6 separate regions of the Homo sapiens genome follow, and all the other regions are linked to region 4. Evidence: fine-mapped expression QTL. A gene starts in region 4. Each other region holds a variant in brackets. All regions are shown on one strand. Distances are between the middles of the regions.

The links. PIP is the estimated chance that this variant, and not a neighbour inherited with it, causes the effect.
Region 1: its variant is the best candidate, but not a certain one, in a credible set for the expression of NRG1 in whole blood (INTERVAL, PIP 0.68).
Region 2: its variant is the best candidate, but not a certain one, in a credible set for the expression of NRG1 in monocytes (Fairfax 2014, PIP 0.62).
Region 3: its variant is the best candidate, but not a certain one, in a credible set for the expression of NRG1 in whole blood (INTERVAL, PIP 0.66).
Region 5: its variant is the best candidate, but not a certain one, in a credible set for the expression of NRG1 in whole blood (INTERVAL, PIP 0.51).
Region 6: its variant is the best candidate, but not a certain one, in a credible set for the expression of NRG1 in whole blood (INTERVAL, PIP 0.58).

Annotation. Positions count from the first base shown.
Region 1 is chr8:32,609,163-32,613,253 of GRCh38, forward strand. All of the region lies in intron 3 of NRG1 (neuregulin 1), which reads left to right. Among named protein-coding and RNA genes, the nearest start is that of NRG1, 63 kb to the left of the region's middle. The variant A/G (reference allele first, on the strand shown) is at 2,271.
Region 2 is chr8:32,399,753-32,403,843 of GRCh38, forward strand. It overlaps a transcript of NRG1 not described here. Among named protein-coding and RNA genes, the nearest start is that of NRG1-IT3, 39 kb to the right of the region's middle. The variant C/T (reference allele first, on the strand shown) is at 2,068.
Region 3 is chr8:32,482,423-32,486,513 of GRCh38, forward strand. It overlaps a transcript of NRG1 not described here. Among named protein-coding and RNA genes, the nearest start is that of NRG1-IT3, 44 kb to the left of the region's middle. The variant T/C (reference allele first, on the strand shown) is at 2,392.
Region 4 is chr8:32,546,148-32,550,238 of GRCh38, forward strand. It overlaps NRG1 (neuregulin 1), which reads left to right and starts at 2,164. Exons shown (of 12, transcript NM_013964.5): 1 at 2,164-2,679. The coding sequence starts at 2,580.
Region 5 is chr8:32,508,502-32,512,592 of GRCh38, forward strand. It overlaps a transcript of NRG1 not described here. Among named protein-coding and RNA genes, the nearest start is that of NRG1, 38 kb to the right of the region's middle. The variant AAATAAT/A (reference allele first, on the strand shown) is at 1,596.
Region 6 is chr8:32,447,135-32,451,225 of GRCh38, forward strand. It overlaps a transcript of NRG1 not described here. Among named protein-coding and RNA genes, the nearest start is that of NRG1-IT3, 8.4 kb to the left of the region's middle. The variant TA/T (reference allele first, on the strand shown) is at 2,279.

The DNA.
Region 1 (4,091 bases), 63 kb after region 4:
ACATTAGAGGAGATACCCTTTTTGCTCTGCACCTTAGAGTCCTAGTTATAGTGCATCCAGAAGGAAAATATGTAATCATCTTGATCCCTTATCCTCTTCCACTGCTATCTAAGAATTTGCTATATTCTGTTCAATGCTTGGTTGTCAAAGAAGCCTCAGTTGGGTTCTGAGCTCTCCGGGGCTTAGATGCACTGCCTTTGTATTGTCTCATTCCTGTCTCCCTAGGAATCAGGGCAGACGTTGCACAGAAACACTTTTTCTGAGAGAAAAAGGGCACTTTCTACTGGGTTTATAAATTGCCGCACCACTGAACCATGTCTTCCTAAATAGATATTTACCGTTGACTTGGGCTGATAGAGAGTAGAATTCTCAAGAATTTCCTTCCCTCCCTCCTTCCTTCCTTCCTTCCTTCCTTCCTTCCTTCCTTCCTTCCTTCCTTCCTTCCTTCCTTCCTTCCTTTCCCTCCCTCCCTCCCTCTGTCTGTCTCTCTCTCTCTTTCCTTTTTTTTTTTTTTTTTTAAATGGTGTTTCGCTGTGTCACCTAGGCTGGAGTGCAGTGGCAGGATCTCGGCCACTGCACTGGATTCAAGCAATTCTCCTCCTGGATTCAAGCAATTCTCCTGCCTCAGCCTCTTGAGTAGCTGGGATTCTAGACACCCCCCACCACACCCCAGCTAATTTTTGTATTTCTTGTAGACAAGGTTTCGCCATGTTGGCCATGCTGGTCTCTAACTCCTGACCTCAAATGATCTGCCCACTTTGGGCTCCCAAAGTGCTTGGATTACAGGTGTGAACCATCACACCCGGTCAAGAATTTATTGTTTCATTGTGGATTCTAGAAAAAAAAAAAGTTGTTAAAATAAGAACATGCTGTCAAACTATTACATTATGTAGAACTCCCCTTGAGATTTTAATTTATATTTTCTATGAACTATCAGTCACTTTATTAATTTCATTTTTTCACCTTTTCTATGTATTTCCAAGAAGCTCATGGCTATAGTTTCGAGAATTTCTATACAGGTTTCCTTGATGAATGATCCTTGTAGGTTGCTGCAATCTAATTATCCTAATTTTTTCCTATGCAGAGGATTCCTTGTGATTCACTTAAATTCTCACACAGTTACTTTTTGTATGTTCCAACATGTTTAGAACATATTTTGATACAAGATTCTAAGAGAGATGGGGAGGTTGGGGGAGACATTCGTTGGAAGCTGTTTACTTTCTCCCCAGATGACCTTGCTGTTTGGCATGATGTTTAATCTCATTAAGGAAGCTATAGTAATTATTAAAATAAAATTAGATCATAAAAGTCTTCTGCAATGAAACTCATTGTTTAGATCTATCTGGATTAGTGACTAAATATAAACGAAATGATTAAAAAATTAGGAAATTCCCCTTGAAACAGTATATGCTTGGGTGTAACAGTGGCCATACTTATACTGTTTTCAAGCACTTAGAAAATAATACAGTCAAGCATTTTGCCAACCTACATTTTAGAAATGTAGGTGTTTTCTGTCTTTTCCAATGCCTTTCAACCCCTACTTTATTCAGAATTAGAGAAAGTAATTTATCCTGTAGTAGACATATATCAACCTATGCAATCTGCTAATTACTTCTGGGACAATGTAAAGCTTACAAAGACCAGTTGGGTTTTCATATAACAAAGGATCTCATAGGCAGTAATTATGTGATAACTTATGAGTGAATTCCTTTCATGAATTCGTATATGACAGCAGAAAAGGCCACATACATCATGTTTACACACCCTACACACTATATGTTCATTTGTATTTGTGGTTTATTTGGCTCAGTCTGTATATAGGAAACCTTGACTTAGCAATTAATTCTTAGCTAACAAGCTTTGTGAAAACTCCTGGGCTTTAGAGTAGGGAAGAGAATAATAGACTTTACTGGTTTCCAAATTAATTAAGTAATGCTTTCTTTTAAAAGATTAATATAGGAAAATATACAACTAATCAATCATATCTTCTCCTAAGTTTTCTTTTTTAATCAGAAGAAAAATTATTTGAATGAGATTCAAGTTCCCACAGGAGCAATTGGGCTTGTAGCAAAAAAATAGCTGTTTCATTTGAGATGAGCAGAAAAATATTATTTTTATAAAATTTAATTAAATTATCAATTGCAGCTTTTAAAAATAGACTCATACTGGTAATAGGCTTCGCCTTACCCCCTTTCCCAAATTGATAATGATGTTAGAAATTTCACAATATTGGGAAACAACCTGCAGTTATGTTGAAAAGCATGTAAAAT[A/G]TGTTTTATAATTTGTATAACAGTCTACATGTATATTGTATTATGTAGGATGCCCAGGAAGGCAAATACATGAGAACAATATGAAAGCAATAGGGTAGATTTGTCTTTTCAATGTATGGTATCCATCCTGTCTACACTGTTTATTAATTTCAAAATTTCTCAGTTGCCTTAGAGTAAGCATTCATTATGAACAGGAAGAATTCAGGTACTTAAAGATGTTCCTTAAGTTATCTTTATAACTGCTAATAAATAAATATGTCCACTTTTAAATCTTTTAAAGAAATCACTTGATCAAAATTTTTGTATGTACAGCAGTGACATATAAGTTTGGTAAAAAAGTCACATAAGTGAATGTTGGAATACACACAGACACATTTTATGTATGTTTGTATATACTGTATACAATGTGCATATGTGTATTTTGCTACATAATTATATTTAGTGTATTATGATCATGATGAAATTGCAAACATGTTACATTCATAATAATTAGAAAAATTCCTTTCTAGAAGATATCTTTGAGACCATGCAACTTTTTCCTGAGACCAGACCCCGTTTATTAAGAAAGAATTCAAACATTACAAATATACTAATGTTCATTATGTTTACTTGCCTGTTCAGCATAAGTTGCTCAGCTGTGTTCAGTTTCTGATAATTCTAAAACCTCATTAATTTGCACTAATGAAGGGGCTGTCCTTTATAAATTAACAAATGTAATATGCCAAATTACTATGGGAAAATATGTTGCTTAAATAAACATCATAAAGATTGCAGGATTTAATGCTTTTTTAAAAGTCTGTAAGTGTAATATAAAATTACTTTCAATTTACTTTTAACAAAAGGCTGTTTTCCAAATCTATAAATTCTACCCATAGCACACATAAAAATGCTTGCTGAGTGGTTTTAATTAAAAAGATTAACTTTCTTACTAGCAAGATTCTTTTTACAATGAAGACTCCTTTGGTGTAGAAGTATAGGTTAACTTTTGAGCTTGTATTTCCTCCAGGGTTAATTCAGAAAGTTTGTATTTGAAACCATAATCATTAAAGATATTTTAAGGTCTCCAAGATAAATACCTGATTTTAGGAAGAGGAGTTATTTTAAGTTGTCTCTGTGTAGATGCCTCTTTGTAGTAACCTCCTGTTCTGGTATTTTTAGGTAACATTCAATTAAAAAATGAAACATTATGGTTAACCTTCCCTCTAATCTGAGGTATTTTTTGCTGGAGATAGAAAAGTTCTGATTTTTTTTTCTTCTTGGAAGGTCACAGTGGACAGCTACTTTGTTTGTCAAAAATAAATTTGAAAAGAGTCTTGATATCCGAATTGGGATTGGGACTTCTGCCCAGCTCTAGTTGAGCACCTTGGGTTTACGACTTCATCTGGTTGTAATGTCATTGATGAATCCTGAAGGACAAGAGAAGGAAGCATCTCTCTTAGTGTAGGTCCTTTGTTTGGAAACATGGCCCTTCTAGATATTTCTAGAGAAGGACACACACTTTGTATCTCTAATATAGTTTCTTTGAGATTACATTTTCTCAAAGAAGAACAATTTCATTTTCTGCAGCCCAAATCAAGAAAGCTTGTTGGTGCTGCTTCAGAAACAGATATCTTCATATTACCAATTCGGAATATCCTCTTTCTCGCCTGATGCTTGAGAAAATCCTGAGAAAATGATGTACCCTCACATACTAATTCCTTTCAGTGAGCCCCATTTTTAGTGGATGTAAGAGCCAACGTAGGCAACTTTGATGTATTGAAACCAAGCTTACTCCTTGCATAGTTTGCCCTCCTAATCTGTGATTAGAGAGGATCATCCACA
Region 2 (4,091 bases), 150 kb before region 4:
AGAGACTTTTCCCTCCTGTAATTCTTTTTATTATCAAATATCAGGTATTATAGGGTATAAGCCAGTGTTCTTTTTTATGATTTCCAGAAGTGTTAAATTTTCCATGTCTTCTGCATTTGAAAGTAATAGGTTTGGAAAGAGAAAAGCTGTTCATTCTTCAAGTACATGTAAGTTTAAGTACCTTGCAGACTTTGTTTTGCAGGAAGCTTCCTTGCCTTCTCCCCATATCACCTCTCTGCACCTCTTCACACCCATGAGGGTCTTTATAGCAGTGCAGTCCATAAATTGTTTTGAGGTACCAATACCAGTTTCTTGGATATTTTCTTACTTAGGAACATAAATACTTAGGCTGCCATTGCGTTAATAAGGAAATGCTGGATAGTCAGAATCCTACATTAACCCGAGCCTAAAATCTGTAGTATCGCTTCAAATATCTATGTAGAAAGCATAGTTTATTAAACTAAACATCTCCTGTAATCCCAGCACTTTGGGAGGCCAATGTGGGTGAATCACTTGAGGTCAGGAGTTTGAGACCAGCCTGGCCAACGTGGCAAACTCTGTCTCTACCAAAAATACAAAAATTAGCCAGGTGTGGTGGTGCAACCCTATAGTCTGAGCTACTTGGGAGGCTGATCACTTAATTTAAAACTTAAAAGACCTAATATCCAGAATCTATAAGGCACTTAAACAGATTCACAAGCAACAAACAAACCCATTACAAACTGGGCAAACGACACGAACAGACACTTTTCAAGAGAAGATATACACATGGCCAATAAGCATATGGAAAATTACCCAATATCACTGATCATCAGAGAGATGCAAATCAAATCCACAATGAGATACCATTTCACGCCAGTCAGAATGGTTATTATTAAAAGGTCAAAAAATAACAGATGCTGACAGAGTAAAGGGAACGCTCATACACTGCTGGTGGGACTGTAAATCAGTTCAGCCGTTCTGGAAAGCAGCATGGCGATTCCTCAAAGAACTTAAAATAGAATTATCATCCAATCCAGCAATCCCATTACTGGGTATGTACACAAAGGAATACAAATTGTTCTATCATGAAGACACCTGTACACATATGTTCATCATAGATAGCACTGTCCGCAATAGCAAAGATATGGAATCAGCCTAAATGCCCATCAACAGTAGATTGAATAAAGAAAATGTGGTACATATACACCATGGAATACTATGCAGCCATAAAAATGAATGGGATCATGTCCTTTGCAGGAACATGGATGGAGCTGGAGGCCATTATCCTAAGCGGACTAACACAGGAACAGAAGAGTAAATACTGCATATTCTCACTCATAAGTGGGAACTAAACAATGAGAACCTATGGATACATGGAGGGGAACGACAGACACTGGGGCCTACTTGAGGGTGGAGGGTGGGAGGAGGGAGAAGATCAGAAAATATACCTATAGGGTACTATGCTTATTACCTGGGCGATGAAATAACCTGTACACCAAAGCCCCATGACACGCAGCTTACCAATATAACAAACCAGCACATGTACCCCTGAACCTAAAATACAAGTTAAAAAATAAATACATAAAAATTTAAAAATAAAAAATAAAACTGCAAACGTGCCCTGCTTTCTGGCAGTACCCCATTCCCTGTTCCTTAGTTTTCTCTCTGGCACTTATCATTTATCTATTTTATTCATTGTCTGTCTCCCTTCACTAGAGGTTCATGAGGGCAAGGATTTTCATGTTCTGTCCACTGCTATGTCCCTAACACTTAAAAAAAGGCTTTGCATTCTATAGTCATTCGATGAAATAGGCTGAATTTAGCTAAAAGGGAGTTCATGTCCTTTGAAGAAACATGGATGGAGCTGGAGGCCATTATCCTTAGCAAATGAACACAGGAACAGAAAACAAAATACCACATGCCCTCACTTATCAGTGGGAGCTAAACAAAGAAAACACATGGACACAAAGAGAAGAACAACAGACACTGGGGTCTGCTGAGGGCAGAAGGTGGGAGGAGGGAGAAGATCAGAAAAACTACCTATCAGGTACTATGCTTCATACCTGGGTTACAAAATAATCTGTA[C/T]GTCAAATGCCTGTGACACAAGGGTACCTGTATAACAAACCTGCATATGTACCCCTGAACCTAAAATAAAAGTTGTTTGTTTGGTTTTTTTGTTTGTTTGTTTGTTTTGAGACAGAGTCTTGTTCTTGTTGCCCAGGCTGGAGTGCAGTGGCGCGATCTTGGTTCACTGCAACCTCTGCCTCCTTGGTTCAAGCAATTCTCCCTGCCTCAGTCACCCGAGTACCTGGGACAACAGGCGCCTACCACAACGCCAGGCTAATTTTTGTATTTTTTAGTACAGATGGGGTTTTGCCATGTTGGCCAGGCTTGTCTCAAACTCCTAACCTGAGGTGATCTGCCCACCTCGGCCTCCCGAAGTGCTGGGATTACAGTTGTGAGCCACCACGCCTGGCCTAAAAGTTTTTTTAAAAAGAGAAAACACTTTCCTTACCCTTTGTAGCTCATTGTCTATCTAACACACCCTGTCACTCTCATCAGCCTTGAACTTCTTACAAAGCCATTCAATAAAATGAAAGGAAATAGGTGCAGTGGGCCCCCTCTGATTCGTGGCTTTGATTTCTTTGGTTTCATTTATCCACAGTCTAAAAATATTAAATGGAAAATTTAAAAAAAAAACAATTCATAAGTGTTAAATTGCATGCCATTCTGAGTAGCGTGATGAAATCTTGCCCTGTCCCACTCTGTCCCATGCGGGACATGAATTCTTCCCCTTTGTCCAGCAGTTCCTCACTGTCTATGCCTCCGACCTGTTAGTCACTCAGTAGCCCTCTCAGTTATTAGATCGACCATGGCAGTATGGGGGTGCTTGTGTTGAAGTCACCCTTATTTTACTTCCTAATGGCCTCAAAGCACAGGAGTAGCAATGCTGGAGATTTGGAGCTGCCAAAGAGAAGCCCTAAAGTGCTTCCTTTGAGTGAAAACTCTTAATAAGGAAAGAAAAACATTGAATGCTGAAGTTGTTAGATCTTCTATCTGTTGAACTGTGAAGAAGAAAAAAGATATTTGTGCATAGTATATAAAGGGTTTCGTACTACCCACGGTTTCAGGCATCCACTGGGTGTCATGGAATGTATCCCCTGAGGATAAGGGGGGATTACTCTATGTATTTTCGTATCCTTACATCACTTACATTATTTTTCCTCAGCCTTGTTGAGGAAAATAAAAACACAGAAGCCAAGAAAGAAATGAGCAAGCACTGGCCGGGCACAGTGGCTCACACCTGTAATCCCAGCACTTTGGGAGGCCAAGACGGGTGGATCACCCAAGGTCAGGAGTTCAAGACCAGCCTGGGCAAGATGGTGAAACGCCGTCTCTACTAAAAATATAAAAATTAGCCAGGCACAGTGGCAGGTGCCTGTAATCGCAGCTACTTGGGAAGCTGAGGCAGAGAATTGCTTGAACCTGGAAGGCAGAAAAGTTGCAGTGAGCCGAGATCATGCCACTGCACTCCAGCCTGGGCGACAGAGCGACACTCTGTCTCAAAAAAAAAAAAAAAAAAAAGAAAGAAAAAAGAAATGAGCAAGCACTGAACACCTACTGTGTGCAAGGCACTTGATAGCCTTCCTGTTATTTCTTCCTCACTACAATCCCATGAAGTAGTTCTTATCCCCATTTTACAAGATACAAAAATTGACTCTCAAAAAGCTTAAGAAATTTGCTTCTAGTTGCACAGTCTTATAGATTTTCACTTTTATAAGATAAAAGAGCTTATTCAAATCCAAGTCTGTTTGAACCTGACAAGGAAAGCCTTCTCTAAATAGAGTATCTGAATCCCTCCCTGCTCGAAAGTCTCCTTTATACGCTCATGTTTCAAAAATTTCACATTTTTTGAGATATAGATAGTACCCACCCACATCACCTCTGTTTTTATGGAAAATTTACACTTAAGTGGCAATTATTTTAATCAGATCGACATCCTAGAGAGTGAGAGTTCATTGAGGAAAGAAGGAAGGTACATTTTTGGATCATAATGAGGAGAGATCTTGATATTTTTGAAATTTGTTTTGTCTTCCCATGGTACAAAG
Region 3 (4,091 bases), 64 kb before region 4:
TGTTCTCTGGTATCTGTAAATAACATCCATATCAGTTTCTCCATCCATTCTTTGCACATCACTGGTAATGCCTGAGATCAAATCTGCCATGCTTTTCCGGGCAGATCCAGGCTGGGATCTCAGTATCCCTGCTTCCCTGAAGCTGTCCAACCTCACTCCCTTCATTGCTCTGCTGTGATTAGGAAGGAGCCATTCCAAGGACTATGGGGTGCTCTGTGGGATAAGCCCAGTCCTTCTTCCATACAGGAGGAACAGGGGACGGGTGCTGACAAGAGGAAATGCATGGAGCAGAGAGAGGGAACAGGCAGATGGACTCAAGGTCCCCAGACTCTTTCGAGTGTTGAATCAGAAGGACTGGAGCTGTGGGGGAAGAGGGTGGGAACAGGGTAGTGGAATAACATGCAGACAGATGGGCTGAACTGAAGGTCCAGAGGCACTCCCAGCCGTCAACCAGCAGTTCTTACACCAGGTTGATGTTAGGGAACAACCCCAGCTTTAAAACTTATTTATACCAAAGTGCCAAATGACTCATTTGAGACAAGGCTTTGATCTCTGGGGACAGGGCGTTAGACAGCATGAGGCTTAGGTTGCCAGGTGTCTTCCCACAGTTCCTGTCTTGTGTATGTTACACACTCAATTCATGTCAGGATGACACTACATTGGCATGATCCAAGGGAACCCATAACTGACATGAATATGTGTGTGTGTGTTGATTGGGGAGATGGGAAAGAGAACATTTCTTCCAGATTTTCTAGTTCTTATAGTTCATAATCTTAATCCTCATCTCCACTTCTCTGCCACTTCTCTGGCTAAATCCAAAGCACAGCCTGGCTAGAGAGGACTTCTCTTCCTTGGGGGTTCTAGTCTATTCTCTGAGTTGTGACAAACATTTCCATTCCCTGTAATTACCCACTTGCCTTGTCTCTGAAGAGGCATTCACAGAATAAACCAAAAGAATTGTAGTGTTAGGAAGATGTCAAATCATTTGACCTCTACTCCATCTCCGGCTTTTCCTTCTCCCCCCATGAAAGTTATGCATTTAGTTGCCTCTTGTTCATTAGTCTGGACTTAGAGCAAAGTGACTACTTCAACTTCTTGTGCTCAACATATGCCACAGTTGCTTACATGTGATAAGTCCATTTGTCACTTGATAAGCCTTTGCTAGAATTTCCTTCTCTCCATCTCCAACCTTATAATGATCTTGAAGGCAATGTCGGAGGCTAGGTAAGTCTTCTTTGTGTTCCCCACTTGAGCATAGGTGAGCTGTCATGTCAATTTCCTTACACTACTGAGAAGAGGGGATGTGGGTGGGCAGGGACCCCCAGAAACAACTTTACCCCTTTCACAGTTTCCATCACTGCCTCCAATGTCCACCGACGTTAGAAAGTTTGGGCAGAAGTGGCCAGGTGCGGTGGCTCACGCCTGTAATCCCAGCACTTTGGGGGGCCGAGGCGGGCAGATCACAAGCTCAGGAGATCGAGACCATCCTGGCTAACATGGTGAAAACCCGTCTCTACTAAAAATACAAAAATTAGCCAGGCGTGGTGTCAGGCGCCTGCAGTCCCAGCTACTAGGGAGGCTGAGGCAGAAGAATGGCATGAACCCAGGAGGCGGAGCTTGCAGTGAGCCAAGATCGCACCACTGCACTCCAGCCTGGGCGACAGAGCAAGACTCCGTATCAAAAAAAAAAAAAAGAAAGTTTGGGCAAAACCTAGAGTTTCAGGGAAAGTCATTTGAGGTTTGGTTTAGGCAGGAAATAGAACAAAACCAGTGTACTAAGGAGAATACAGTGGAAATAAGAGGGAAAGGAATGAAGAAACTGGTAGGCTACTAAAATGCCCAGGTACAAACTACTGAACATCCACCTTTATGCTGTCAGTGGGCAGAAAAAGAAATAGACAATGACAAGATACATTTTGAATTAGTGTGATTTAAGGACTGGCTGATGTGCACAAAACATGAGAGAAGGGAGTCAACTTTGACAGAGATTTCAAGAGCAGATCACTGATGAAATGTGATAACATTCAGAAAATAGAGAAGTTGACATGGGCTTTGATGAAAACACAATGAGTTCAGTTTGAAGCATTTTGAAGTCAAGGTGATTTTGTGAAATACAAACGATGCTGTCCAGCAGGCATAGAATCTATCTGGAGTCATTTGTACAATATACCTATGCCTTTTTTTTTTCTTTCTCCTACTGTAGACTTAGATAGGAACTCACTTTTGTCTTTTTTCTGCTAGGCCAATAAATACGTTCTCAGCTTAGAAAAGGGGCTTTTTGGTTTGCCTATTTCTGTTTCTTTTTACAGAAGTTAACACATTTATTTGTGACCTATTAAAATCATGAAGTATTACCACTGGGTTTTATGTTTTAATGGAAACATTTCATGT[T/C]TAGAGAATAATGATGCTTAAAATTTATATGAATTAAAATTTTAGCCTGTAAAAAGAGCCTGGAAATATCTTCATACCATCATCTATCCTTCCACTTAAATATTAATCACAAAGAAGATCAGGCGTAGTGAACATACACCACGCAACCTCCCATTCAGAGAATTCTTGTGCAAAGAAGGATTCCAAAGGGTTTCAGAAATACTAAACTTCTTGAAATTGAAATTGAAATTGAAATCCTTCTTGGCTTCTCTACCTGTTACTTCCTCTGCAGTGCTCAGTATAGTGTCTGCTCTCCCTCCTTTCTTTTTCTTTTTTTTTGAGACAGATTTTCACTCTTGTTGCCTAGGCTGGAGTGTAATGGCGCAATCTTGGCTCACCGCAACCTCTGCCTCTTGGGTTCAAGCGATACTCCTGCCTCAGCCTCCCAAGGAGCTGGGATTATAGTACCACGCCCAGCTAATTTTGTCTTTTCAGTAGAGATGGGGTTTCTCCATGTTGGTCAGGCTGGTCTCCAACTCCTGACCTCTGGTGATCCTCCCTCCTCGGCCTCCCAAAGTGCTGGGATTACTGGCGTGAGCCACACACCCGGTCTGCTCTCCCTCCTTTCTTCACTTTTCTGCTTCCTCTCTCATATTAATAATAAGCTTCTATCTTTCCTTAATTGTTTACATATCTGTCTGTCCTCTTTCTCCACCCCACGAACTCCTCAAAGGCAGAGTCCCTGTCTTTTTTATTTCATATCCCTAATGGTAGCTGCAAAGCAGACACTCAAGAAGGAAGGAAGGAAGTAGGTGGGAGAAAGGAAGAAGAAAGGAAAATGAAATTAACTACTAGTTTGTTTCCCTGTTTCATTGAGAACACACGTATTAACCAAACAAGTAAACAATTGTCAGAATATTGCATTTTAAACTCCTGAGAGAAGTTGCTGCTTCTGTGGCATTTCTATCTAATTAAGTTTCCCCTTAAAGTTGTAATCTTTTCTTTCAAATCTCATAATACGTCTTATTTAGGTGATCATACCAATTATATCTTTCCCACTCAAACCCCTAAAGTTATCCTTGAATAAATGAGCCTTGCAAATTATATTTCCCCAATTTGCACTTATTTCTTTCTTTTTTTTCTTTTTTCTTTGAGACAGAGTTTCACTCTTATTGCCCAGGTTGGAGTGCAATGGAGTGATCTCAGCTCACTGCAACCTCCGCCTCCTGGGTTTAAGCAATTCTCCTGCCTCAGCCTCCCAAGTAGCTGGGATTACAGGCGCTCCCCCCCTCCCCATGCCTGGCTAATTTTTTATATTTTTAGTAGACAGGGTTTTGCCGTGTTGGCCAGGCTGGTCTCAAACTCCTGACCTCAAGGGATCTGCCCACTTCGGCCTCCCAAAGTGCTGGGATTACAGATGTGAGCCACCGCACCCAGCCTCAGAATTTCTTACTGAATAATCCTTTTATAGTTTGTTATAACTAACACAAAACAGTAGTGGGAGTTCTTATTCAGATAGCTAACAAATTCCAGGCACCTCCTGTACTATAAGTGTCCCTCATAGCACAAAGGGGAAAGCTGCCCTTTAAGAATCCATAAATGCAATGAAACTCTACTTACGCCACCCAGGTTGTTAGGACACAGGAATATTAATCTGGAGAAGCCTTTGATAATAGAATATAGTCAAAGTTGACATTGTGCTAGAATATTTGAATTTTTTA
Region 4 (4,091 bases):
TTCAAATGAAAATGTATCACAAAATCGTAGGCTCTTCCCCTATCTCACTGAAAAATTACTCTAAAAATGACCAGTAAGCTGTTTTGTTGAAGCAAAACATCCAGACCCTAAACAAAAGTAGCAGAATTACAACATTTCCATAGAAATGGATTTTGAGCTTCTTTTTTTTAATTGGGGAAAATCTTATTTTTTAAAAAAGAATCCCAGAATACATCTTTGCTTTCAGTCCTTCAATTCTAACATAATGCCATGTTAGAGAATATGTGGTAGTGTATACTAAGCCCTTATGCTGTCTCACATCCTTGGGACAAAATATCTGTTTTGAAAGGACTTCTCTGAATTTTGCTATTTCCTGCTTACTGAGCAGTGGCCCCCTCCTGGGAAAACAGAGTTATTTCAGCCAGTGTTCAGACTCCATCTTGCATACGTCTCTGTGGAATATTAATAGTGCTACTGAGATATATTCATCATCTTTTCTCTGCTTTTGCTGTCTTTATAGCCCAGTGAAATTTATATTTGGTGTTTGTAGGAAGGCTATCAGAAGCTACTTGGACATCAAACTTTTAAACTATAAATAATGATGGCAAGACTGCTAGGATATCTTTCCACAGTTAAACCCATTCAACAGAGTTTCGTTCTTATGACAGTGCAAATTAAACTAGAATAAAATTAGTGTGATTTTAGGACAGTTTTAAAGTGAACATATTTCCCTCCCTCCCTTCCCATCTACATATCAAGGAGACACTCCAGACTGCACTTTTATTTAAATTGCGGCCATCAGAAAATACCGTGAGAAGGTAGTGTGTAGGTAATGGTTCAGTTAGCATTGACCCCAGAAAATGGAAAACCAAGAGCAAGTCACTTTTAAAGTGAAGCAATAGATTTTGAATATGGATTGTTCCAACTCACCACTTCCCGACCACAACACAAGAGTATTTCACTGTAAATTAAGAGTCTAAGTTAACCACAGCTGTGGTATAACTCTGAGAATGTTTTCTCTACATGTAGACAATTCTGGATCCTTCCGTGGTGCCCGTTACCCTGGTCTTTAACTTTTGTCCTTTGCAGGGGAGGGGTCAATGCCTTCTTATTTCCTTGCTCTTTAGAATTCTCCACCAGAGGGAGGACAAGGGAAGGAGTAGGTTTCACGCGCAGTTCTGAGTAAAGTTTGAATCTGAGAAACCCCACATTCACGAATTAAGGATCTCCAGTTCTGTGTCTTTATTCTACCCCTCCCTGCCTGCTTTTCCACTCGGCAGAACTGAGTGACTTTCAGCGGCTGCAGTAATTTTAATTATTCTGAGTCGTGCTCCGAACTATGTTTTTTATCAGTTCCTCTGAAAATTAAGTTGTAGTAAGAGACGTAGTTTAAGGGCACCCCCTTAGAAGAGGCCAGGTTATTTTTTAAGGAAAAGCTGAAGATTTCTAACAGGCACTTACTAAACACACACACACACACACACACACACACACACACACGCACACGGCGCAGACCCAGCAGGAGAGCGCAACCTAGCATCTTTAAGGTTCGCTTAGCCCTTCCTGTGCACCTGGAAGGAAGCCTTATCTTAAACTCCCTTCCACCTAGAGTTTATTTTCGCCTGCGTGCGACAGGGCTTTTGTACTTAAGTGAGTTAAGGAATGAACCCCGAACTCTTCTGGGAAAGCCACCAACGTTCCCCCCGCACCCCTCCCAGGGTTCCTGACCACGGAGACTCTGCTTGGGGCACAGGTGTGGGAGTCGCAAACTTTTCTCTGCGCCGTCCTTTTCCGCGTGGAATGGGACGGAGCAGCCCTCCCAGGCGCTGCCTGGCTGCGGAGGGGAGCGGGCAGCGAGAGCCTCGGGTCTCCGCCTGGGTTCCCGGGTCTCCGGGGCGCTGGCCTCGGTCTCCGCGCAGCGTCCAGCGACCCCTGTCGGGGGTTCCCGGCAGCCGCGCCGCCACCCCCCGCCCGGCCAGCGCGGGAGGAAAAGGGGCTGCGCCCGGGAGCGCCGAGCCCAGGCTCCTCCCGGTGGCGTGTCCGCGCCTCGGGGTGGGGGTGTGGTGGGGAAGAGGGAGGGGGCGAGGCCAGGGGAGGGTGCGAAGGAGGCGCCTGCCTCCAACCTGCGGGCGGGAGGTGGGTGGCTGCGGGGCAATTGAAAAAGAGCCGGCGAGGAGTTCCCCGAAACTTGTTGGAACTCCGGGCTCGCGCGGAGGCCAGGAGCTGAGCGGCGGCGGCTGCCGGACGATGGGAGCGTGAGCAGGACGGTGATAACCTCTCCCCGATCGGGTTGCGAGGGCGCCGGGCAGAGGCCAGGACGCGAGCCGCCAGCGGTGGGACCCATCGACGACTTCCCGGGGCGACAGGAGCAGCCCCGAGAGCCAGGGCGAGCGCCCGTTCCAGGTGGCCGGACCGCCCGCCGCGTCCGCGCCGCGCTCCCTGCAGGCAACGGGAGACGCCCCCGCGCAGCGCGAGCGCCTCAGCGCGGCCGCTCGCTCTCCCCCTCGAGGGACAAACTTTTCCCAAACCCGATCCGAGCCCTTGGACCAAACTCGCCTGCGCCGAGAGCCGTCCGCGTAGAGCGCTCCGTCTCCGGCGAGATGTCCGAGCGCAAAGAAGGCAGAGGCAAAGGGAAGGGCAAGAAGAAGGAGCGAGGCTCCGGCAAGAAGCCGGAGTCCGCGGCGGGCAGCCAGAGCCCAGGTGGGTGCGCAGCGCGGCCCGGGCCCCACGATCCTCCTCCTGCTCCTCCTACTCCTCCTCCTCCTCGGATGCCGTGGCCTCTCCCTCCCCCTCTCCCTCGCCCGTCCTCTTCGCCCTGCGCTCTGAGCGCCCGTTGAGTCGCGCGGTGCTTCCCCTCCTGGGGGCCGCCGCTCACCTGGGCGCCGAGTCCTACCGGGCGCCTACGCCCAGAGCTCAGGGCAAGGGACAGCAGTCCCGGCCGCACCCTCCCAGAGTCCCGGGAGCGCTTCGCTCCCTGGCACGGCCCCTCCCCAGCGCCTTAGCGGCTGAGCCCAGCCCGGGAGTGGGACCTGGGCTATAGGAGTCGAGGCTGCGTGCGCGCGTGCCCCGCGCCATAAGCGCTTTGCACGGGGGCCGTGTGCCCTCTAGCGGGAAACGCTGGAATGGGCCGCCTGGAGGGAGAGCCGGTCCCCTCGGTGTGCCTGGCAGCGCAGAAGTGGGTGGTCGAGCAAGAGGCCGCGTGGGAAGTTAGCTTCGGCGTTTTGGGGCACAGGGCAAGCGATGTAGAGTGCGCGCCGGTTCATCTTGATTCAGTCCTGTGCTACGGAGACTCAAGAGCAGCGGCAGGGATTCCTAAAGGTCAGCGAAGCAGATGAAATCTAGTCCAGTGTCAGGAATCAGCTCTGCCCCAAACAAGTTCTACAAACTTTTGGCTTAACAGTTCTATTTTTCAAGACCTCTGTGATAAATATGGATAATTTACTTTCCCAAGAGATGTAAGAAAACAACCGTTTATCTGAATTTTTGAACCCAATTGTTTGCTGGTTATCTATATAATAAAATGGCAATTGAAGCTTTCTAGAAACAAATCTTGTATTTCATCATCAGAACACGAGCATGAACAAAAGCTTTACCTTAGATGTCCCTAGGAAGCGCTGATGCTTTGGACATTACCTTGGACAAAAGAGGCATGTCGAATAAATACTTGTTTATGAGTGATTGGTAGGTAGCTGATAAAAGAGGGGAGGAAGGAGATGGGGGAGAATTTATTTTTTGCCTCTGCAATTCCCAATTATTAATTGATCCAGATGCCTTAAGTCGCTTCGAGCGTACCCCCAACACACATTTCATGAAGCACTTCTGCAGAATTAATTCACTAGTACTTGATAATACTGTGGCTACAGTAATACTGTAGAAGTATTTGTCCCTTGCTGGAAGAAAACAAACCACATTTGCTTGGTCTTCTTACTGGTATCACTGATAGCATTTCAGAACCTGGGTTATTGGCAGAGACCTTCAGCAGAGTTTTGAGCAAAACAGAAATTGAACAGAGAGTAATTGTTTCACCACTGGCCATTCTTGTGCTTGCTTCTTTAATAAGATCCTGCTGATCATATTCACTTCAATTACTGATCATTGCCCCTCATGAGGGT
Region 5 (4,091 bases), 38 kb before region 4:
TTGGCCAGGCTGGTCTTGAATGCCTGACCTCGTGATCCACCTGCCTCAGCCTCCCAAAGTTCTGGGATTACAGGCGTGAGCCACCGCGCCTGGCCTAAGGGCTATTTTTTAAGTTGCAAAACAAAAACAAAGTTTTAACAGTTGTCATTCTGATATGTAGAATTATTAGGAAACCTACACTATTTATTTTTTATACTTGTATATACTTTGTGGTTTTGTTGTTGTTTTGGTTTTTTGTTTGTTTGTTTGTGTGAGACAGAGTCTCACTCCGTCACTCAGGCTGGAGTGCAGTGGGGCAATCTTGGGTCACTGCAACCTCTACCTCCCAGGTTCAAGCAATTCTCAGGCCTCAGCTTCCTGAGTAGCTGGACTATAGGCACACACCACCATGCCCAAATAATTTTTATATTCTTAGTAGAGATGGAGTCTCACCATGTTGGCAACGCTAGTCTCGAACTCCTGACCTCAAACGATTTACCCACTTCAGCCTCCCAAAGTGCTGGGATCACAGGTATGAGCCACCGTGCCTGGCCTATACTTGTGTATACTTTGAATTGTTTCTTTTTTCTTTTCCTATTTTATTTTATTTTATTTTATATTTTATTTTATTTTATTTTTTGCGACAGGGTCTGGCTCTGTCACCCAGGCTGGAGTACAGTGGTGCAATCATGACTCACTGCAGCCTCAAGCTCCTGTGCTCAGGTGATCAGCCTCCTAGGTAGCTGGGACTACAGGTGACCACCATCACACCCAGCTAATTTTTGTATTTTTTCATAGAGATGAGGTTTCACCATGTTGCCCAGGCTGGTCTCAAATTCCCAGGCTCAAATGAACCTCCCACCTGGGCCTCCCAAAGTGCTGGGATTACAGGTGTGAGTCACCACATCCGGCCTGAATTGTTTCTATTATTCACATATAACTTTGTAATCTTAAAAAAAATACTTAAGACTTTAAAACAAAGATGATTAGAGCCTGGATTAAGCTAGTGTCGGCAGCCTGAGGAGGGAAGGTTTTGGATGCCATTGCCAAAGTAGATTGAAGAGGAATTGGAATTTGAGGGATGCAGGTGATTAAAGGAGAGGGGGAAGAGTCAAAGGTGACACTCACATTTCTAGCTTGGTAAATTGGTTGTTTGTTTATTCCATTAATAGAAATAGAGAAAAGAGACAGCAGAGGAGGGCTTCATTGAGGAGGATGACTTTGTTAGTTTCATTTTGGATTTAAGTCTGAGGGTCCTGAAAAGGCAGCTATATGTTTGGCTTGAACCTCTCCACTTTCCACCTTCTCAGTAATTCATTAATATTTTGGATGTCCTAGCCTGTTGATGTGTGTGTACTGGAGGTGGTGGTGGTGGGAGCTAATATGTTTAGAAGTTAACATTTCATCTGTCTTTATCCTTTTACTCTCCTTTCATTCAGACCCTACAATTATTGCTACAGGGAAGAAATGTGGCCTTGCCTGTGAAAATCTAGTTTTTGGAATTTTTTTTGCTTGTTTTCCCCCTAAAATTTAGCTCCAAAAGAGAGAAGATTCTTAACTAGTGGAAAAAATGTCTTGGTCAGAAACAGGAGAAAGAACATAGCTATCCTAGACAA[AAATAAT/A]AATAATAATAATAATAATAATAATCATAAAAGCAAGGGAGGGAGGGAGAAAGGGAAAGAAAGAGAGACAGAAAGAAAAAAGAAAGAAAAGACAGGAAAGGAAAGAAAGGAGGGCTAGGCATATTGCCTCGTGTCTATAATCCCAGCACTTTGAGAGGCTGAGGCAGAAGGACTGCTTGAGCACAGGAGGTCAAGGCTGCAGTGAGCCATGTTTGTGCTGCTGCACTCTAGCATAGGTAACATAGGGAGACCCTGTTTCAAAAAAATAAAAAATAAAAAAAGGAGGAAAGGAAGAAAATTCCAGTAGAATAAAGAAAAAAGGAAAAAGAACAATATTTACAAGTACCTGCAGAGAGAAGGTGAGAAGATGAAGACCTGTTTTCTACTTTTTTGGGCAGCACTGCTAAAGAAATAAAAAAGTACCCAGAAGTCGCAGGACTCTAATAAAATGGAACATCACCTCTATTCCTGCCTGTTCTTTGGAGGAGTAGAAGGTGAGGAAATGGGGAAGTGCAGGATGAGTGATTCTGGAGAAGACATGGCTGTGCTCATGTTGGGCTGATGATGTCACTGATAACTAAAACAAAGGGCTCAGCCAGGCACCCAGAAGCCTCAGGGCCACCGCACCCTAAGGACCATGCAGGCTGAGACAGGACTCTTTTCAGTAATCCGGAAGATGGCTCCACCCTCTCTAGTCCAGGCCATACCCTGGGCCATACCCTTAGCAGTGCTACCCAAAAAAGTAAAAAACAGGTCTTCGTCTTCTCAACTTCTCTCTCCAGGTTCTTATAAACATTGTTCTTTTTCCTTTTTTCTGTATTCTGTTGGAATCTTCCTTTCTTTCTTTCTTTCCTTTTTTTTTTTTTTTTCTGAAGCAGGGTCTCCCTATTTTTTTCCATGCCATACCCTGAAAAAAATCTCTGGGGAGAGGATCCCAAAGAGACAAAGGCTAATTTTCTCACCATGCTTATAGATTAGGGGCTTTGAGAAAATGAGGGTATGTTTTTAAAGTATTTTAATAGTGGACTGATCTATTTTACCTCCTGGACCAGATGAAATGGGAACTGTTCCAATTCATGGAGCAACCAGACATACATGTTCAAACAATTATGAAAAACATACAACAGATATTTATCAACAAATACATCAGTAAACAAACTTACATGACCCTGCTTGGCCATCACTGTTTCTTTTCAACACACACACACACATTTACAAATACATATATATGTGTGTGTGTGTGTCTGTCTGTCGATATATATGTGTATATATATATATATATATATATATATATATAAATAAAATAAATAGGTAAGAGCTGCTTATAGCCCTGAATCCCCACAGAAAACCCCGTCTGTCTTTAGTTTCATGAAAGCATTGTACTTTTTCTCATTATTTTTCAGACCATCACAGACACTTCTGATCAGTGTTCCACTTAAGCTTAGCCCCAAATACACAGAGGAATTTTATACTGAAAGTTAAAGAAGCGACAGTAGTTAGATTATCTCATGCCTCCTAGATTGGCTGGCTTTGAGCACTTTTTCAAAGTGTGTACCAACTAGGGTTTGTCCACCAAGTTGCAATGGCTTGTATTTGAGTCAGCCATACGTGCTCATGGATAAAAACAATAAGAACTCTTTATTAATATAAATATACTCTGTGAAGGCAAAGATGTGCTTTAAAGGAAATTTCTGAGCATGTGAGAAGTAGATGAGTTACATGAGGTTAGGAGCATGCAGCTGTGACCCTAAATGGGGAGAATACAGCCCCAGGGAGCTGTGATGCACGGCCACTGGGAAGCTAATGAAATGGGCAGAGCCAGGACCAGTGGGGTAGAATTAAGGCAGAAGCTTCCCTCTTGTGCTGGACATTGTGCTGGTCTCTTTCCTGCCCAGCACATGCCAGGTAGGAGGCTATAATGTGATCATGGGTCATTCCATGCCACAGGAATGGATTGGCCTGAGCTGGCCTTCTTCATAATCCAGGAATAAGGAGAAGAAAGAGGTAGGACAGAAGATGGTCCTTTATGGGGGATGAGGGGGATGGAGGGGGGAAGCTTCTAGAGGAATTGGAATTTTCACAGAAAGACATTTCTGCTTAGATACTAATACAGACGTACATATTTGGACAATATACATGTAGAATAAAAATTATTTGAATTACTTCAACAATTATGCCTACTTTTCAAAAGGCTTTGACATCAGCTATATAATTTAGCCATTTGGCAATATTAATCATAACTTACTAAACTAAATTTGACATTGGGATAACAGAATGGTAAAATGCAAACTGAAATCATAGCTTTATGATCACATGAATTTCCTTCAACAGCTGTTCACTGTTATTACTACTTATACCTTTGTTAGCATTCCAAGAGGATCTGATAATCATAGCTAGCATTGATTGAGCAATTATTATATACCAGACATTCTTCTAAGTGCCATTATCTCATTTACCCTACATAACAACCTTATATGGTAAGTATCTTTT
Region 6 (4,091 bases), 99 kb before region 4:
TCAGCCTCCCACGTAGCTGGGATTACAGGCGCCCACCACCACACCCGGCTAATTTTTTTTTTGTATTTTTAGTAGAGACGGGGTTTCACTATGTTGGCCAGGCTGGTCTTGAACTCCTGACCTCGTGATCCACCTGCATCGGCCTCCCAAAGTGCTGGGATTATAGGCATAAGCCACCTTGCTTGGCCCTAAAATACTTTTAATAAGATTGTCTCATCCTTCTCTTGGTTTTCCAATGGAAATGGTGGTATAGCAAGTCCATCTGAAACACTTCTGCAAAATAACAATGAAGCTAATCACTGTGGGAAACATTTACATCATATGTATTTGCATACAGAGGAAATTGATAATCTTGAGACATCAGCATACTAGAATAGCAAGAGACATGTTTTATTCTATTATATTCTCTTAGTCAGCAATGTTTAATTGTTGCTTAAAGGAAACTGAATAAAACGTGGGCGCAGTGGCTCCCACCTCTAATCCCAGCACTTTGGGAAGTTGAGGAGAGAGGATCGCTTCAGCCCAAGAGTTTGAGACCAGCATAGGCAACATAGTGAGACCCCATCTCTACAAAAAATATTTTTTAAAATTAGTCGAGCATGGCGGTGGCTCCCTGTAGTTCCAGCTACATGGAGGGCTGAGGTGGGAGGATCACTTGAACCAGGGAGGTCAAGGCTGCACCCTGGCCTGGGCAACAAAGCCAAACCCTGTGTCAAAAAAAAAAAAAAAATACGTAAAGCAACAGTTTTTCTATAACGGATTGCATGGTAAAAGGAAGGATGACTTTCTTACTATAACTCCTTATGATAATTTTTTCCAAAGTGTTAATCTTAGGGGTTGAAATTTTTATAGGTAATCATTAACTTTAGTAGAACATTATTTTAAAGTTTAGGTATTTCATCTGAGTATATTACTCTGGCTTTCCTAAGCTAGCTTAGTTATATATGTTCACTTCAGTTTGAGTCTCCACTAAATTTTAACATGAACAAAATATTATATGCAACACCATAGAAGCAATTGTTAAATCATTGTTACTTTTAATATCACCTAAATCTAACCTAAGTAAATGTGTTTATTTTTATTACCAACTGATGTAGATATACCCACATGGACAGAAAACAGCATAAACCACCAAAAGGACTTGAAAATTCCCTCTTCAAGACTTCTTTTGCCAATGACTAATGTTTAATGCTATTTGCTAGAGATTCTGGTGCCAGGAGGATTTCTAACCAGGTTATTTTATCAATAGGAATAAAATATCGAGGGCTTAAATTAGTGTAATCTCTCAAGATCTTGAATTTGACGTTTTCATAATTTTTACTTAATCATAGCTCCTGGGGATTGGAATTACTCTTTTAGCTGGCCCGAGTCTGGGAGGAGGATCCAAAGTCTTTGAGTTGTTTTCTTTTATTTCTTTTTAGCCCCTAAAGCACTGGAAATGGTTGGCCCTGAAGTGCTCCTAAGGTAACCGCAAGATGAGGCAAAACAGGATTGAGATGAAAACCAAGCTCACCCACATCCTACGTCAATTAGCTATTTTTTTTTCTGTGTAAACAATGGGAGGGAGGTGGATTGTAGCTTTTATGGTAGAGGTTCCTCGGCACCTCCTGACGCCCCCAGGGGTCCCCCCTGCCACTGCCCTCAGCCCAAATATAAGCTGACAACAAAATGTTTCTTCAAAGTGCTCATTGTTTACTCTATTCTGGCTTCTTCTTAAAGGTCATCATCATGTTGAATTATCTTGAGAAAATCCTCTGAAGTGTATGTGTGTGTGTGTGTTTAGGAAGGATGTGAGGAGGATTGGGAGGTGAGTCTCTGAATAACAAGTTGAAAAAAGAGTATGGAGGAAAGCGGTGTTTAAAATTGTCCAAAGCCATCGGCCGGGCATGATGGCTCACGCCTCTAATCCCAACGATTTGAGAGGCTGAGGTGGGAAAATTGCTTGAGCCCAGGAGTTTGAGACCAGTCTGGGCAACATGGTGAAACCCCATCTCTACAAAAAAAGTACAACAATTAGCTGGGCATGGTGGTGCATGCCTGCAGTCCCAGATACTCAGGAGGCTGAGATGGGAGGATCACTTGAGCCTAGGAGTTTAGGGCTGCAATGAGATGTGAGTGCACCACCATACTCTAGCCTGGGCAACAGAGCAAGACCTTGTCTCAAATAATAATAATAATATATAAATAAACAAATAAATAAAATTATCCTAAGTGAAATCAGTTGTTGATAGAACTGAAGTACATCAAGCCTAGTGGGACTGTGGTTGTCTCTCCAGCC[TA/T]AAAAAAAAAAAGAACAAAAACAACAACAAAAAAACTTAACTCCAAAATTGCTGTTGCTCCATTTATTTCAGGTGTAAGACTTCTTTGAGATTTAAAAACAATATAATCATTTACAATGTACTTTGTTGGACCTAAGCATAGGAAAATTCATTCATTCATTCATTCATTGAGTACCTGTTATATGCCAGGCAATGCACTAGGCACCATCAAAGATGAATAAGCTATGTGCTAAAATTCACAGTCTAACAGAAGAAACATGAAAGCAGAGTGGAAATATACTGTGGCAATACATATTTGGATATACTGGTATTAAAAAGTAAGGATGTTTCAGCTAAATCTTTTTTGGTGTTTATTTTTTAAAAATTCATCTATTAACTTCCTACACACCATGCATATATTCAGCTAAATCTTAAAGTATGAGAAGAAACATGCCATTCATGAAAGGGAAGAGGGAGCCAGTGCATCAGATACAACCTATGCAATCGTGAAGATTTATGGCAGAGCACAGGATATTTGGGGATTGGCAGGCATTTCAAAATGGCTGGCACATAAAGTTCCGGGATGGGAACAGGCTGGCAAGAGAAGAGATCATCGGAGCCAAAGTAACTGAACTGTGATTGAATTTTAGATATGATAATATCTATAGGAAACCTGGCAACCCGGTGGGCAGGTAAATATGATAGAGCGAAGATAGAATCTTCAGGCCTTCAGGGGACTAAGCAGGAATAGAATAATTTTATTGAGCACTTTAAGTGGACATTATGCTAGATTATTTTACATATTTCATCTCCTTTAATTTACACCACAACCCTGTGAGTGCAGGTTGATAAAGAATTAAATAAAATCCAGGTGAAGTAGCAGCACCTATAGTTCCAGCTACTTGGGAGGCTGAGGTGAGACCATTACTTGAGGCCAAGAGTTCCAGGCTGTAGTTCACAATGGTTGTGTCTGTGAATAGCCACTGCACTCCTGCCTGGGTGACACAGTGAGACCTCATTTCTAAAAAAGAAAAAAAAAATTGAGACAGGGTCTCGCTCTGCCACCCAGGCTGGAGTACAGTCACGCAATTACAGCTTACTGCAGCCTTAACCCCCAGGCTCAAACAATCCTCCCACCTCAGCCTCCCAAATAGCTTGGACTACAGGTACATGTCACCACACCTGGCTATTTTTTGTATTTTTTGTAGAGATGGAGTTTCACCATGTTGCCCAGGCTGGTCTTGAACTCCTAGGCTCAAATGATCCTCCTGCTTCCACCTTCCAAAGCGCTGAGATTATAGACGTGAACCACTGCACCTGGTCTAGAAATTATTTAATAATAAAAAAATGAAGACAGAATTCAATGAAGAGCATAGAAGAGTCTCTTAAACCTTTGTTTTAAGCTATGAGCCAGGAAAGAGATGGTGGCAAGGGTGAGATGGTTGCAGTGCTTTTTTGTTCACTTATCTCAGGCCTGTGTGTTCTGAGTTAAAGACAAGTCAGTTGGCAAGAGAAGGAGAGAGGAAGCTTCCCAGAACCATTTGAAGGAAAATTTGGAAAGTCTTCTCTAAGGGAGTTGCCCTCAACTACCTTTTAACACAAATGGAGGACTGAAAAACAAAACAAAACAAAACAAACAGGAAGGAATTGCAGATATACAGATCTTTGGCCTTTCAAACTATGGTATCTCTTAGTACTATTTTATATATTGATAATAATTATAATTTTTCTCAAACTTCCCAAAAGTGGAACATTGTGGGAAATAATATGGGAGTGGACATTTGAATTTCTGTTTGACTTTGCAGCAGAAATCTCTTTTCTAACTCTCTCTTT